Regions from separate parts of the Homo sapiens genome. Here region 2 is linked to region 1. A link means that fine-mapping ties the variant in region 1 to the expression of a gene that starts in the linked region. Tissue or cell type: whole blood. Region 1 holds a variant in brackets; the other region holds the start of a gene. All regions are shown on one strand. Distances are between the middles of the regions.

The links. PIP is the estimated chance that this variant, and not a neighbour inherited with it, causes the effect.
Region 2: CIRSR starts here. The variant in region 1 is fine-mapped to the expression of CIRSR in whole blood (TOPMed, PIP 0.98).

What each region holds. Positions count from the first base shown.
Region 1 is chr2:174,313,859-174,321,964 of GRCh38, reverse strand. No RefSeq gene overlaps it. Among named protein-coding and RNA genes, the nearest start is that of LINC01305, 8.1 kb to the left of the region's middle. The variant A/G (reference allele first, on the strand shown) is at 3,168.
Region 2 is chr2:174,392,231-174,400,317 of GRCh38, reverse strand. It overlaps CIRSR (corepressor of RBPJ and splicing regulator), which reads left to right and starts at 4,606. Exons shown (of 10, transcript NM_004882.4): 1 at 4,606-4,767. The coding sequence starts at 4,696. SCRN3 (secernin 3) reads right to left here and starts at 4,588. Exons shown (of 8, transcript NM_024583.5): 1 at 4,501-4,588; 2 at 1,876-2,043; 3 at 215-396. The coding sequence starts at 2,034. RefSeq lists enhancers at 3,660-4,160, 4,658-4,707.

The DNA of each region.
Region 1 (8,106 bases):
GTGTGGTGGCGCACACCTGTAATTCCAGCTACTCGGGAGGCTGAGGTGGGCGAATTGCTTGAACCTGGGAGACAGAGGCTGCAGTGAGCCGAGATCATGCCACTGCACTCCAGCCTGGGCAACAGACCGAGACTCCAACTCAAAAAAAAAAAAAAAAAACTTAGCAGGAGGAAAAAGTGAGCAGAAGAGCCAATAGTCTATTATAGAATCTTTCTGGCAATACCTAGTAACTGTGCAGTTGCCAAAGAGGGCAATGATGCTAGTTAATGAGAAAAAGGAAGAAGAAAGGGGGTGATGCACATTGCATTGAGTTTTGTAGATTTGATAAACCATGGGTTGGCTTTTTTTTTTTTTTTTTTGAGACAAAGTCTTTCTCTTTTGCCCAGGCTGGAGCACTGGAGTACAATGGTGCGATCTTGGCTCATTGCAACCTCTGCCTCCCGGGTTCAAGTGATTCTCCTGCCTCAGCCTCCTGAGTAGCTGGGATTACAGGCACGTGCCACCACGCCCAGCTAATTTTTGTATTTTTAGTAGAGACGGGGTTTCACCATGTTGGTCAGGCTGGCCTCGAACTCCTGACTTCGTGATCTGCCTGCCTTGGTCTCCCAAAGTGCTGGGATTACAGGCATGAGCCAATGCACCCAGCTCATGGGTTGGCATTTTAAGGAGGTGAAGTAGGTAAGACTCAGCAAGGAAAAAAAGATATACATTAGGACTTCTGGGAGCAACTAGACTCTGAATGTTGGTGAAAATATTTACTTCCCTCTGAACAAAATCCCCTTCTCAGTCATGCTTGTAATGCAGATAGCTCTAGGTTTCTTTTCTTAAAAACACACACACAAACTGATTTTATAAAAATATCCATATCCTTTCTCTTGAATAGAAGGTTTTAAGACCTGGAGCTATAGTGTGGGTAAGTCAATAGATGGCAAAAGAAGTATGGGGTGGTTCTGCCCCTGTTAGTAAGAGACTGCCTTTCATGGGCCTTCTGGGGCTCATTTACTTAGTCATTCTGCAGAGGACCAAAAGAAGCCAAAATCCAAAACAGGAGGTTATTCTTTCAATATAACAGTTCAACAAAGTTTGAAAGAATGAAGGTTCTCATCCTTGGGATTTTATTTTAGATTGCCCTACCTACCTAAGTATAATATTTTGACTTGAGGAATTATATTTTGACCAAGGCAAGAACTAAAAAAACAGAAAGAGAATCAACTCTTTTTGCAGAAAATGTAATTTTTCTATACTAAACTCACCCCGCACTAACTCTCTCTCCCTGTCTCTGTGTTTATGTGTGTGTGTATACACACACACACATATATATATACACATACATACATATTATATAAAGTCCTAATAAGCACATTTTTTAAAGCAAAATGTAAAAGAGAGCAAAACCAGCAAGATCTGTTAGGACTTTTTCTTAACTACTTAAACTTTATTAAAGGAATTTGCTCCTCCTTTGTTGACCATCTGCAAGATGCTATACCTGGGTTACATTTTCATTCTTGAATCCCACCCTTATGTAAGATCTAAAACTGGGGAAGAATGGCTCTCCAGAGGAAAATCTTGACACTTTTAGCATAAGAAGGGGTGCTGGGTTTTGGGAAGAGAGAAATAGAAATATTAACTACAGATAGCAAAAAAGAAAGACAAATTAATATTGATTAATTAGAAGAGCTGAGGAAATCTGGAATGAAAGATTACTCTGAAGTATTTAACCACCAGTAACAACAGACATTACTACCAGAATTAGAGAGCTGTGTAGTAAATTCAGTTCTTGTTTCCAGTCCTTATCCCTTTTCTTTTCTGTTTTAACATGCTCCTTATTTTGAAATATAATTAGAAGCTTACAGAAAAGTTGCTAGAATCTTACAAAGAAACATTCCTGTTTATCTTTTAGGAGATTCGCCAGGTTTTAACATTTTGCATCATTTGCTTTGTTACTCTCTCAGAAGATTCAGATTTTCAAAGAAGACATGGGTTTGGTTTGAGACCAACTAAGTTTGAGAGAATGGTGGAATGTCTAAGCAGAAAAGCTCGGCCGGGTGTGGTGGTTCACGCCTGTAATCCCAGCACTTTGGGAGGCCGAGGCAGGTGGATCACCTGAGGTCAGGGGTTCAAAACCAGTCTGGCCAACACGGTGAAACCCTGTCTCTACTAAAAATACAAAAATTAGCCAGATATGGTGGTGCGCCCCTGTAATCCCAGCTCCTCAGGAGGCTGAGGTGGGAAAATTTCTTGAACCTGGGAGGCAGAGGCTTCAGTGAGCCAAGATCATGCCACTGCACTCCAGCCTGGGCAACAGAGCAACACTCCATCTCAAAAAAAAAAAAAAAAAAAAAGGCTCAGCAGACTGAGAGTCAAGGATCTAGAACTCAAGAAAGAGACTACTTAGAAAGATAACAATTTGAAGAAAAAACTAAGTGGGACTAATTTGTTTGAGGACATGGATTTTGAGGAAAAGGCTAATTCTGAAAGGCAAAAGGTCTTAATTCTGGCCAATGAAAAGGCATGTGATTCTATTAATATATGAATTGTAACTTTTTCATATCTTGGTTCCCTTTAGGGTCATTTGCTATTATTCTTCTTTCACATTTGAAGACTACTTTGAAAATACATGAGGCTTATTGTATGGTTTTATCCAGGGGAAATTTATAAGAAATTGAGAGTATTGTCATTAATATGGCTTGTAGGTAACATATATGTCCCAGTTACCATTATTGTGTAACAAATTACCTGAAAACTTAGTGGCATAAAATGACCATTTTATTATGCTCACAGATTCTCTGGGTTAGGAATTCAGATTGGGTACAGTGGGTATGGATGATTGTCTTCACTCCACCATATCTGAAACCTCAGTCAGGAAGACTCAAAGGCTGTGGGTAATGCAACGATTGGGGGCTGGAATCACCTGGATATGACTTCACTCACTTATCTGGCAGATGATGCCGGCTTTTTTTTTTTAGATGGAATTTCGCTCTTATTGCCCAAGCTGGCGTACAATGGCACAATCTCGGCTCACTGCAACCTCCACCTCCCAGGTTCAAGTGAGTCTCCTGCCTCAGCCTCCCGAATAGTTGGGGTTACAGGCTTGCACCATCATGCCCGGCTAATTTTGTATTTTTAGTAGAAACAAGGTTTCACCATGTTAGCCAGGCTGGTCTCAA[A/G]CTCCTACCGTCAGGTAATCTGCCCGCCTTGGCCTCCCAAAGTGCTGGGATTACAGGCGTGAGCCACTGCACCCAGCAGCATGCTGGGTTTTAACCAGGACACCTATCATGTGGTCTCTGCATGGGTAAGTGCGGGCTTCCTTACAGCATACAGCTGAATTCCTGTATTGAGTGTCCTAAGACAGCAAGATGAAACATGGCATTTTTGTGATCTAGACTCAAAATTTATGTAACATCACTCTCCAGTACTCTTTTATTGAGACAGTCGCAAGTGTTTGCCCAAGTTTAAGGGGAAAAGACATAAACTCCACTTATCCATAAGACAAATGTTAAGGTCACATTATAAAAAGAGCACTTGGAATAGCAGATACTGTTTCAGCCACTTTGGGAAAATACAGTCTGCAATAAAACATATATGAACACATAAAGGGAGCATCTAACAGAGTGCAAAGAATAGGCATCTGAGAGTTATTTTTCACTGTCTATGGTGGTTGAAATTTAAAGTATTTCCTCAAAGACTAAGATATAAAGAAGAATTTTACATATCCCCTATGCCTTCTTTATTAGGAATTATTTTCCATAAATGTCTTGAAAGTGTAAGATTTGCAGTTTTTTTTTTATTTTTATTTTATTATTATTATTATTTTTGAGACAGAGTCTCACTCCATCACCCAGGTTGGAGTGCAGTGGCTTGATCTTGGCTCACTGCAACCTCCACATCCCACGTTCAAGCAATTCTCATGCCTTAGCCTCCCGAGTAGCTGGGATTACAGGTGCACACCACCACACCAGGCTAATTTTTCTACTTTTAGTAGAGGCAGGGTTTCATCATGTTGGCCAGGCTGGTCTCGAACTCCTGACCTCAAGTGATCCACCTGCCTCGGCCTCCCAAAGTGCTGGGATTACAGGTGTAAGCCACCATATCTGGCCGCAGTGTTTTGATTAACATTTTGGTCTTACATGTACAACTTAGTGCATTGCAATTCTTTAAACATCTCATCAGCAAATGAACAGCAGCTCACGAGGTGTCTAGAATTACAAAATCTACAGGAGTTTCTCATTTGGCCCAAAATTGAGGGTGCTGATCTAATAACTCGATCACTCACATCTCTTTAAAATAAAAGTTAATAGATTGCTTTAATAGAGAATTATTAATCATAGAAAAAATATTCAATCTGTCAGGTGTGCATTCTTTTTTATTAGCTCCCATTTCATTACGTAATTCAAAGGTTTGGAATATTGGAAATCAGCCTGCATCTTTGAAAGAAACCTTAAGACTTTTCTTTGTTACCGCAAGTATTTTTCTCTTTTCCTTTTTTTAAATATGAAAAGAGACTGAGGAAATGTCCTAATGTTTGGTTAATAAATTAAAAACCTATGTTTAAATGCTTTAATATCCTGATCCTATTTCACTGTGTCATCAGGGGTTGCTTTATCAGCTGTAAAATTACATAAGAAACCTTTTAAATGTAGACCTGTTAACAATATTTGAACTTCTGTGCATATACTGTGATCTTCTAATAATGACTACATCAATGGTGACAGCTCACTGTAGCTCACCAGCAACAGCTCTGCAATTGCTGATGTATTTTCAGAGATCAGAGAAGGTAACAAGGCTGGGCTTTTTCCGGCATTCAGTGATTGTTACTCATTCAGTATTTCAGATCTTTTCTAGCCTTCTCCAAATCCTTTTTTGCAAACCATATGAACAAAACATTACTCTTTTTTTTTTTTTTGAGACAAGGTCTCATCCTGTCACTCAGACTGGAGTGCAGTGGCGCGATCACAGCCCACTGTAGCCTCAACCTCCCCAGGCTCAAGTGACCCTCCCACCTTAGCCTCCCAAGTAGCTGGGACTACAGGCACATACCACCATGCCCGGCTAATTTTTGTAATTTTTTTTAGAGTCGGGGTTTTGCCATGTTGCCCAGGCTGATCTCGAACTCCTGGGCTCAAGTGATCAGCCTCGGCCTTCTAAAGTGCTAGGATTACAGGCGTGAGCTACAGCACCTGGCCAGAACACTACTTTTAAAAACCAAGAAACTGCTATATTTGAGTAGCCAATCAATTAAGAAGGCAGAGGAGATGTTGATTATATAGCAAGGACAGACCTAAGGGAAAGGAGTTTTGAAAGTTGAACATTTTTCATTTTAAAACATTAAGTTTGGCTGGGTGCTATGGCTTATGTCTGTAATCCCAGCAAATCACAAGAGAATCATTTGAGGCCAGGAGTTCGCGACCAGCTTGGGCTATGTAGTGAGATCCCATCTCCACCAAAAAAAAAAGAATTTTTTTTAAATTAGGGTGATATGGTGGTGTGCGCCTGTAGTCCCAGCTACCCAGGAGGCTGAGGTGGGAGGATCACTTGAGCCCGGGAATTTCAGAGTACAGTGAGCTGTGATAGCCCCACTGCACTCCAGCCTGAGTGATAGAGCAAGACCTTGTCTCTAAAACAAAACCCAAAAACAAAAAAACATTAAGTTTAATGGAATACATCTCAGTTAACAGTTATGTTAGATGAGGAGGCCTTAGCTCAGAGCAAATCCAGTTTTCTCTGTGTCTAGTCCTACCATAATTGAGCGATGGGGAAAGAAGTATAGAGCAATGTGTATAAGTTAGGGTTTGTTTGGCTACAGGTTTGAAAGCAATCAGAAACCAAAATACAGAACATTGGCTTGAAGTGCAGAAAAAAGTTTACTTCCAAACTGATATGGTGACTCCGTGGATCATCAGGGATCTGAGTGTTTTTCTCTCCCTCTTTTTTTCTCATTTCTTGTGTCATCTATGATTTTTAAAAATCATTTTTTATTTCAATAGGTTTTGGGGGAACAGGTGGTGTTTGGTTACATAGATAAGTTCTTTAGTGGTGATTTCTGAGATTTTGGTGCACCCATCACCCAAGCGGTGTACACTGTACCCAACATGTAGTCTTTTATTTCTCACCCCCCTTCCACTCTTTCCCCTGAGTCTCCAAAGTGCATTGTATTATTTTTATGCCTTAGCATCCTCATTGAGTGCTTCTCTCTTAATGTCTTACCTATTCTTCTTGGTACACAGCCTCATAGGTCAAGATGCTTCAGGTCCAGCTACTGTTTCTCTATTCTAGTGAGCAGGAAGGAGAAAGGGCAAAGAAAACATGCCGTCTACCCTTACAAACACTTCCCAGAAACTCAACTCAACAATTCAGTTAACATCTCATGGACTAGAATTTACTCAGAAGCCATATCCAGCAGCAAGGAAGGTTGGGAAATACAGTTTTTTTTTCCTGTGGCTGTGTTTCTAGCTAAAAATTCTATAACCAAATACTATGGTTTGAATGTTTTTGTTCCCCTCAAATTTATGTGCTGGAACCTTAATCCTCATTGCAACAGTGTTGAGAGGTGGGGCTGAATGGGAGGCATTTCAGTCATGAGGGCTCTACCCTTGTGTGTGGATTAATGCTGCTTTAAAAAAAGAGCTTGCAGGAGTGGGCTCTCTCTCTTCTGCTCTTCTGCTACGTGAGGAACAGTGTTCCCCCTCCTCTGGAGGATGCAGAGTTCAAGGTACCATCTTGGAGGCAGAGACCGGACCCTCACTAGATGCCTAAACTGCTGGCACCTTGATCTCAGACTTCTCAGCCTCCACAACTGTGAACAATAAATATCTGTTTGTTATAAATTCCCCAGTCTCAGGTATTCTGTTATAGCAGCACAAATGGACTAAGGCACTAAGGAAAAAGGGGAGCTAACATATAATATTCCCTGACACAAAATAAGTCTTTTAGGAAAGGAGAGATGATCTAGGAACCAATAAACTGTTGTGAAACAAATTTATATGATCCTTGGTTAGTCAGTGTGTGACCAAATAGCAAAATGATTTTAAACTTTATTCTACCCAAATGAACATCAAGAATTCAAGAATTAGATTTAAATGAGACAAAACATTATTTTTGATGTTATTAAGGGTGAAAGTGGCATTGTGGTGGTGTTAGAAAAATGCCCTTACTTTTTAAAGATTTATATTGAGGATAAAGGGGTGAAATGACATGATGTTTGGCATTTTCTTAAAATACGTCTACAGGCCAAGTGCAATGGCTCATGCCTGTAATCCCAGCACTTTGGAAGGCTGAGGCAGGAGATTCTCTTGAGCCCTGGAGTTCGAGACCAGCCTGAGCAACATAGTGGGACACTGTCTCCACAAAAAATTTAAAAATTAACCAGGCGTGGTGGCACACCTGTAGTCAGTCCAAGCTACTGGGGAGGCTGAGGTGGAAGGATTGCTTGAGCCCTGGAGGTTGAGACTGCAGTGAGCTGTGTTCAAGCCACTATATTCCAGCCTGAGTGAAAGAGCAAGACCTTCTCTCAAACAAACAAACAAACAAACAACCCCAAACAAAACAGAAACAAAAAACTTCTACAAAGAAAAAAGGGGGAAGATGAAAAAAATATAGTCAAAATCTTGATAATTGCTAATTTGGGGTTGGGGGCAGTGGCTCACACCTGTAATCCCCGCACTTTCAGAGGTCGAGATGGGCAGATCCCTCGAGTCCAAGAGTTCGAGACCAACCTGGGCAACATGGCAAAAATCTCATCTCTATAAAAAATACAAAAATTAGCTGGGCATGGTGGTGCATGCCTGTGTTCCCAGCTACTTGGGAGCCTGGGGTGGGAGGATCAGCTAAGCCCAGGAGGTCGAGGCTGCAGTGAGCTGTGGGATCATGCCACTGCACCCCATCCTGGGTGACAGAATGAGATCTGGTCTCAAAAAAAAATTTATTTTTTAAATTGGGGGTATGAGTACATGGGATTTACTGTACTATTATTTTTTATATGTTTGAAATGTTTCTTTTTCTTTTTTTTCTTTTTGAGACGGAGTCTCGCTCTGTCGCCCAGGCTGGAGTGCAGTGGTACGATCTTGGCTCACTGCAAGCATCGCCTCCCGGGTTCACGCCATTCTCCTG
Region 2 (8,087 bases), 78 kb before region 1:
GAGATCTCATCTCAAAAAAATAAAAATTAATTAATTTTAAAAAACCAAACAAAACTGAGAGTCATGAAATTGCATGCCGGTACTTTAAACCATTTTGACACAAACTGCAAAGTATCAAAGCCCCCTCAAAAATAGGAAAATAAAACAAGTAAGAGTTACACAAAAATTATAAATTTAGACAAGGTCTGTAGTATAAAATGTAACAAAAAATAACCTGACAAGGTCCATTCCTAATAGTGCTTCTTCATCACAAACTTCTTCTCTTCCCCATACAGCTTCATTCCCAATGCAAACTCCATGCTCATTGGCTCCCATTTCTGCCCCCCACAACCACGCTGGGCGACTCAGGACAACAGCATATGTTTCAGGAACTTGATCAATTTCTATATATGTACACTGTAAAAAAAAAAAAAAAAAAGTCATAGCAAGAACCACAAAACCAGAAAAGTTATCAAAATCCAGAATTTAAAAAAATCAGTCAGAAGACAAAACTGTTATGAAAGAGGTAAAGGAAATATAAGTAAATTGAAATTTTCAATAATAAAGGCATTACCCTTAAAACATATTCAGAATAACCCTAAAATATTTATTCATTCAAATATTTGCTGAGCATTTCCTATTATAAAACATTCTGCCAAGAGATATGTTAGTTACAAAGATGAATCAGATAAAGATCTCACTTTTGAGAAACTAAAACTTCTACATTAAGATAAAATAAAGTATAAAGTATTAGGGTCATGAAGTGAAGACAAGGTGCTATTGGAGCTCAGGAGAAAGATGGTCTCTAGCTGTAATATCTTGAAACATTTTTGTAGATGTGTGAGTTGAAGCTTAAGGAAGTAGTTCTCAACCTCAATATCCAGTGTTTCTTGATTAGTGATATAATTACTCACATGGTAGCCTTCGAATACAAGAGTTTTGTCATAGGAATCTCACATCACATTTTGAAGTCAACCATTAGGTATGCCCACAGCAATGAAAAGAATGAGAACCACTGGTTTACAGGACAGGCTATATTTAAATATGAAGAAATAAAGTGGAAGTGGTATCACAGATGAATAAGTGGTCTTAGCAAAAGAAAAAAATATGGCATAGGATACAGAAAAAAGTCTAATATTTAATATGTTTTAATATTAGAATATCAATAAAATAAAATCTAAAAAGTATGAATTAGCAACAATAGCATAATTTGAAGCTCTCATTTTAAGTTCCACATTAAATGGGTTTTTAAAATAAGTTTTTAAAGGATCCTTTAATTAATGTGTATACTACCAAGTGACTGCATAAAATGTATATTGATAGTGTTAACATAGGGCCTAATAAACCTTTTTTGATGTGTCATAAAACTGTCATTCCTAAAGTCTGGGATGACTTTCCTATTCTACATCAAGTAGAACCTAAGCCAATTCAGAATCAGAATCCTTTTTGTCCATCAAATTCCAGCTAACTCCAAGCTGAATTAAATGTTCATTCTCTTCCGCTGCCACAGCATGCTACTGTTACTTAAATTTAGCATTTAAACCATCCTATTTTATAATGGGGTATAATGCATACACATCTTATTGCTATACTAGACTCTAAGCTCCTGGAACAGAGTCTTGACAGCTGACTTTAAATCTCTTGCCCTATCTAACATGCTTGCATATGGAAAGCATTCAAATATTTATTCAAACAATGGATAATTTTATTATTGTTATTTCAACGTCCTCCGAATCACTGAAATAAAAGATCACAGTTTATTTCTGACTCATTTATTTTTCAAATGTAAACTCCTCAATTTTAACTTCTACAGTTTCTTCCAAATTGCTATGTATAGAAATAACTTTATGATATTTTTAAAAGGCATATTGCTAACAAAACATTTATTTCACCTACCTTAAGACGTTCTCCCAGGTTATCATGAACTACAGCAGGAAAATAAACCACCTCTTGTACTTCATCATAGAGTCTATCTGAATTTTTTCCAAAAATAATCCTGTTATCGACTGTTGCTGGAGGTAATGCCACGAAAGTGTCACAGGAAAAAGGTTCCATTTTTTTTAACTAAAAATTATACAGATGTTTTAAAATAAAAAGAACACTTTTAAGTATATAAAAATAAAGAGTTTTACTCAATGACCAAAGGATATTATTGCCATATCTAATTAAGGATGTTCATTAAAGCTTTGATTTTTTTATTTTTATTTTTTGGAGACAAGGTCTAGCTCTTTCACCCAGGCTGGAGTGCAGTTGTATGATCAGGGCTTACTGCAGCCTGGAACTCCTGGGCTCAGGAGATCCTCCCCCTTCTGCCTCCCAAAGCCCTGGGATTACAGGCATGAGTGACCGTGCTTGGCTGTTCATTAAAGTTTTAAATTTTGTATACTACAGCCTAAAAATCAGTAAGAATATGACTTGGGACTCAATCTGGTACTACAACTCAGTAAGAAAATGGCAATGAGAACTACCTTCTTCTACTGTATAGTTCACATTTATTCTCTAAGACCTTTCTCTCCTAAAGTCTTCCCTGAATTTCGTTTCACCATTTCCATATTTGGGAATCCGTGTACCTAGCTCTATTGTTGTAAAGGCTAGATTCCATTACATTCGTGTATATATAAATCCCTTTACTGGACAATGAGATCCTTGAGGGCTGGGAGTATGTCTTACTAATCTTTATATTCTCTTTGCTGGAACTTGTCTTATGGAAAAAAATCTTACGTGCCCAGTACTTCCTCAAAGGAAGGAAGAAGGGGTCTTATTTGAGCTGGGAAATAATACACATTATAATTCTGATGAGACTGAAATTTTGAAACAGACTCATTGATTCAGACAAAAATATGTCAATATAATTCCAAATTGCTGATATTTCTAGGAGAAAGTTCACATATTTAATTTATAAATCGCAATTATATACTTTAATATCTAGATTACCTCTTCAGTTGTAACTTGGAAAATCTTAGATCTTCACTTATAATAGAACACCTAAAGGTCCTTATTTTGCTGCCAGAACAGACACATTGTTTTACAGAGTTTCCTTCTTTCCTTTAATAATGGCAAAACCTTAAAATGGCTTTACACAGGCAGATGCTAGCAACTTAAAAACAAAATTTAAATATAATAAATGTTTCCTTAAAAAGAAAAGAAAATGACTAAATAAAAACTTCAGACTGAAACTCTTAAGGGTTTTCCTCTTCTCCTCAGTGACGAGAAGTCTGATGTCTTGATGGCTTCTGTTATTTTCTTTCTGTATTTCAACTCTTATGTCCTGGATCTCCTTCTATTTGTGTTTTATAGTTAGTTCTATCACTATATAACTTTGGCAGACTATTTAATCTCTCTCTTACCTATGCCTTCTGCCTCATCAGAAAAATAAGACACTATTTGATGGGCTGTTATGAGAACTTAATAAGGCAACACGTAAAGTGTTTTGCACAGTGCATAGAACATAGTAGATACTCACATGAAAGCTGTTATTGTTATTATTTGGTAGGAGAGAAAATTTCTCATAAAGGCTTATTCGTTTTTTGTTTTTTTTTTTTGATGGAGTTTAACTCTTGTTGCCCGGGCTGGAGTGCAATGGAGCAGTCTTGGCTCACTGCAACCTCCGCCTCCCGCGTTCAAGTGATTCTCCTGCCTCAACCTCCCGAGTAGCTGGGATTACAGGCGCGTGCCACCACACCCGGCTAATTTTTCGTGTTTTTAGTAGAGACGGGGTTTCACCATGTTGGCCAGGCTGGTCTTGAACTCCTGACCTCAGGTGATCCACCCACCTTGGCCTCCCAAAGTGCTGGGATTACAGGCGTGAGCTACCGCGCCCGGCCAAGGTTTATTCTTAACATTACCCTGATAGAGAACTTGGTTGGTGGATCACCTGCTGCAGTAGCAGCCACGTCCACTCAAAAACCTGGAGTCCCAAGGGCCATCAAGCTGCAATAGTAACCTGAGCTGCCTAACTGGGGTCGTAGGGAAAGCTAAGGAAACTTGCCCCCTGGTTAGAATTGCACCTAGCCCACTGAGGAGGTGAAGCCTTGAGAGATTTTACCAACTCCTAACGCGTATTCGTCATTCAATAAGTATTTATTGAACGTCTTTCGGCGCCAGTACCGTACAGCTGGGTACAAAATAGACAGGGCCTCCGTTCTTGCAGAGCTGTCTGTCATTCTATTTCACGCGCTCTTAGTTCAGCCGGCGCTTTCAGAAACATCATATTGTTGGATTCTCGCAAGCATACTACGGTTAGGGCCGGAATTATTATCTTCATAACATAGATGAGAAAAACAGTGCAGAAAAGCTTTTGCAGCTCGAGTCAGAGTCCACAGAAAGTAATGGGCTCGAGCTTCAAGCACCTTTGGTCGAAGGGCCGCCGCGGTCCACCCCGCACCCCGGCCCTGGGCGCTCAAACCGCAGCCGGTGCAGCTGGGCTCCGGAGCCCCTCGGTCAAGCAGTGCCGCGCCACAGTTGGGTCTTCCGGGTTTCTGTCTCAACTATGCACGCCCCTCCCCCGTGCGCGCCCCTCACCTGGCCTCCCAGCTACCCGAAGTGACAGGTGGACGGAGGGAGGAGTGGCCAGTGGAGGCATCAGTTGCCGGAAGCTGTCACCTTTGATCTCGGAAGTTCCCCCTTGCTGCTGGAAACGCAGTTCCGGTTAGGCGGCTGAGTTTGTTTACGTTGCTAACAGATCTAGCCCCTGCTTTCCCTAGTTCCAGTTCCAAGATGGGGAAATCCTTCGCCAACTTCATGTGCAAGAAAGACTTTCATCCTGCCTCCAAATCCAATATCAAAAAAGTGAGTAAACAGACCCGGGGAGGGATTAGGCCCACAGGGACCGCCTTCCCAGAGGCTGCTGGAAGTGAAAGTGATGGTGTCTCTGAGATCCCTAGGACAGCCTCCGCTTCTCTAGGCCTAAAGCCCTGGTGGTCTCGCCTTTCTCTGCTGAGCAGCTCGCTGACGCAGCGGGTCCTCAGCGTTTATTCTGCAACAGCGAGGAGACCGGTGGCCTAGAGAATCTTTGTCGGCCAGAATGCAAATCCATAATATGCGAAGACTAATGTCAAAATTCCTCAGTACTTCCTTCAGCTGATTCTGGTTTTTTGTCTTTTCGGATCCCAGGGATCACGGCTTCTGAACTCTACTTTTCTGTACAAAGAAGCCTCCCCGTTTACTTAAGATAGATCTTTAAAAAAATTACCTAATAATCTAGTGTCTTTTTGATGACTAAACTCGTTGAAGTTTAGTGTTTTACATAATTACAGGTCTACCAGTTGTAATACTTTGGTGAATATCATAGTAATGAAAAGCAAAAGAGTGAAGTAGAAAGAATCAGCTTTGGAGTCAAACCTGGATTCTAGTTATTCGAGCAGTCACTTTTAGCCTTAAGACCTTGCACAAAATATTTGTAATATCTGACCCTCAGTCTTCTAATCTGTAAATTAAGGATGATTGACTTAATTGTGAGGATTAAGTGAAATAGTGAAGATAAAGGATTTGAAACAACGTAGGCATCTATCACTGTGTCCACTACAGAGAGGAGGTGCTCAATAAAATGTTGATTGCCCCTACATAGAAACTTGTGAAAATAACTAAGCTTTTATTTGTTTTTAGAACGAGTTGAGGTGATGAGATACTGCTATATACTCTCACTTCTAGACCAGTGATTCTCAACTTTTTTTTCACTGTTACCTTCCTAAGGAGTCTTATTAAACATTTTTTCTTAATAACTCCCCCATGAAATTTTAATAACACAGATACACCTTGAAAGCTCTTTGGTAATCATCCAGCCCCATCTCCTCATTTTATAAATGAGGAAACAAATTTGCCAAGAGTTACACAGCTAGTTAAATGTTGTACCAGAACTAGGATCTGGAACACCTGATTAACCCAGTGATTTTTTTTCCACTGCACCAGTTTGTGTTTGTGTGGTTGCAACTGTGGGAGGGAGAGGTTTCTTGTATTTGGTTGGCTCAATAACTTTTGACACCAAACACAGACATTTCCTTTCTCTGCATACTTAGGGGGTCAGCTGTTACTATTTTTACAAGAATGAAGAGATTAGATGGAATTCAGGTGCTTGCTTATTTGCTGTTTATATTTAGAGACAAATATACCTGAGAAATCATAATTTTTTACTGGAACTTTTGACATTTCGCTTTATAAATTTCAATGTATCAGCTTTCTTACAAGAAAAAAGAAATCCACAGAGAATAACTTTTGCAAGTCCGCTATGAGAAATTCAGTAAAGCAGTTATAGGCTTAGAACCTACATTCTTCTCATCTGTGTAAAGTGTTATGTAAAATGTACCAAATATTGTTGGCCTCTTTGATCTGTTTTATACTTTTCCCAGGATAGAGGAGAAGAATGAAATGTTTTTGATTAGCAGACCTTTCTAGATAGTTAACACTTTATGGGGAGAGGGGGTGACCTCTAGCATTCTTTATTAACTAAGGATAAAGGAACTATATTAAATGAAGATAAATAGAAAAATTTATTAGGGTAGGAGGAAACTTTTGGAGGTGATGGATATGTTTATAGTGTAGATTGTGATGATGGTTTCACAGGGATATACTTGTCACCAAACTCAGGTTGTATACATTAAATATGTACAGCTTTTTATATGTCATACTCCAGTAAAGTTTTTTTTTTTTTTTAATAGAAGTGGAAGAAACAAAGGAGTTTGATCAAAGAGTGCAAAAGAGTTCCACCATGAAAATTTTAAGGGCCAGGTATGGTGGCTCATACCTATAATTCCAGCACTTTGAGAGGCCAGGAATTCAAGACCAGCATAGGCAACAAAGTGAGACCCCATCTATATTTAAAAAGAAAGAAAGAAAATTCTAATTGTAAAATTAGGCATGTTGGGTTTATTAAAGTCCAGTAGGTTCTTTTTTTCCTTGTTTGTTTTCAGTTTCCCAAGCTTATAAAAAGTCCAGTAGGTTTTAAGGTCTCATTTGTTCACCAAAAATAAGAGTGAATGCTGTATATCTGCTGGTCACTCTGTTGTGTATTGTTATGCGCTGCCTCAATCATTTATGTCACAGGATACACTGTTTTGTTCAGCTGTTCTTTTTTTTTCTTGATTTTGTTAATGAAGGAAGCAGTTAATTTACATTGTGGTCCAAGCTCTTTAGTCTTCTTGTGGACTGGCAAACAGTTCATAAACTGGCTATTGACAATTGCATCACTGTAAACTCCCTTTTTTGTGAAACTCTCTGTTCCCTTAGCTGTAATAACTACTCTCTTCTAGTTTTCCAGCTCTCTTATTAGACTGTTCTTTTCCCATCAACTTCACTGGATCTTTATTCTTAGCCTGCTCCTAAAATATAAGTGTTCCCCAGAGTTTCATCCTTGGCCCACTTCTTGCTTACTTAGTATGCTTGCCCCAAGCAATCACATCCAACTAGCCTGTTTTAACTAGCCTGTTTACTCATGACTCAAATCTGCAGTCCCAGTTTTCTCTTCTTAACTTTGATGTGGCTCAAGACAGCTATCTACTAGACATTTGCATCTTGATGTCCTATAGGCACCTCAAACTCAACATATCTGATATAAAAGTTTTTTACCCCAAATCAGCCCTTTTTATACTTGCTATCTCATATGGGTAGAAATATAGATAGTAAAACAGTCCCTCATCCTGTTGCCCAAACCAGAAGCTCAGGATTCATCCCTTTTCCCATCACTCCTTTATCTAGTCAATCACTGAATGCTATTGGTCTTACCTTCCAAATATCTCTTGAATCCATCTTTCCTTTCTGTCACTGCTGCTTGTGTCTTAATTCAGACCCTCATCATCTTTCACCTATATTGTTGCATTTCCTAAGTGGTTCTACTGCCTCCAATCTTGAGTCCTCTCAAATCCATTCACTACACAGCCATCAGAATAGTCATTTTTCATTTTAACAGCTCTGCTGAGATAAATTTACATATCATACAAACACCCATGTAAAATGTACAATTTAGTGGTTTTTAAAATGTATTCATGGAGTTAAGTAATCATTACCACAAACAATTTTAGAACTTTGTCATCACCCCAAAAAGAAACCCCCGCTGGGCATGGTGGCTCACACCTGTAATCTCTGCACTTTGGGTGGCTGAGGTGGGTGGATCACCC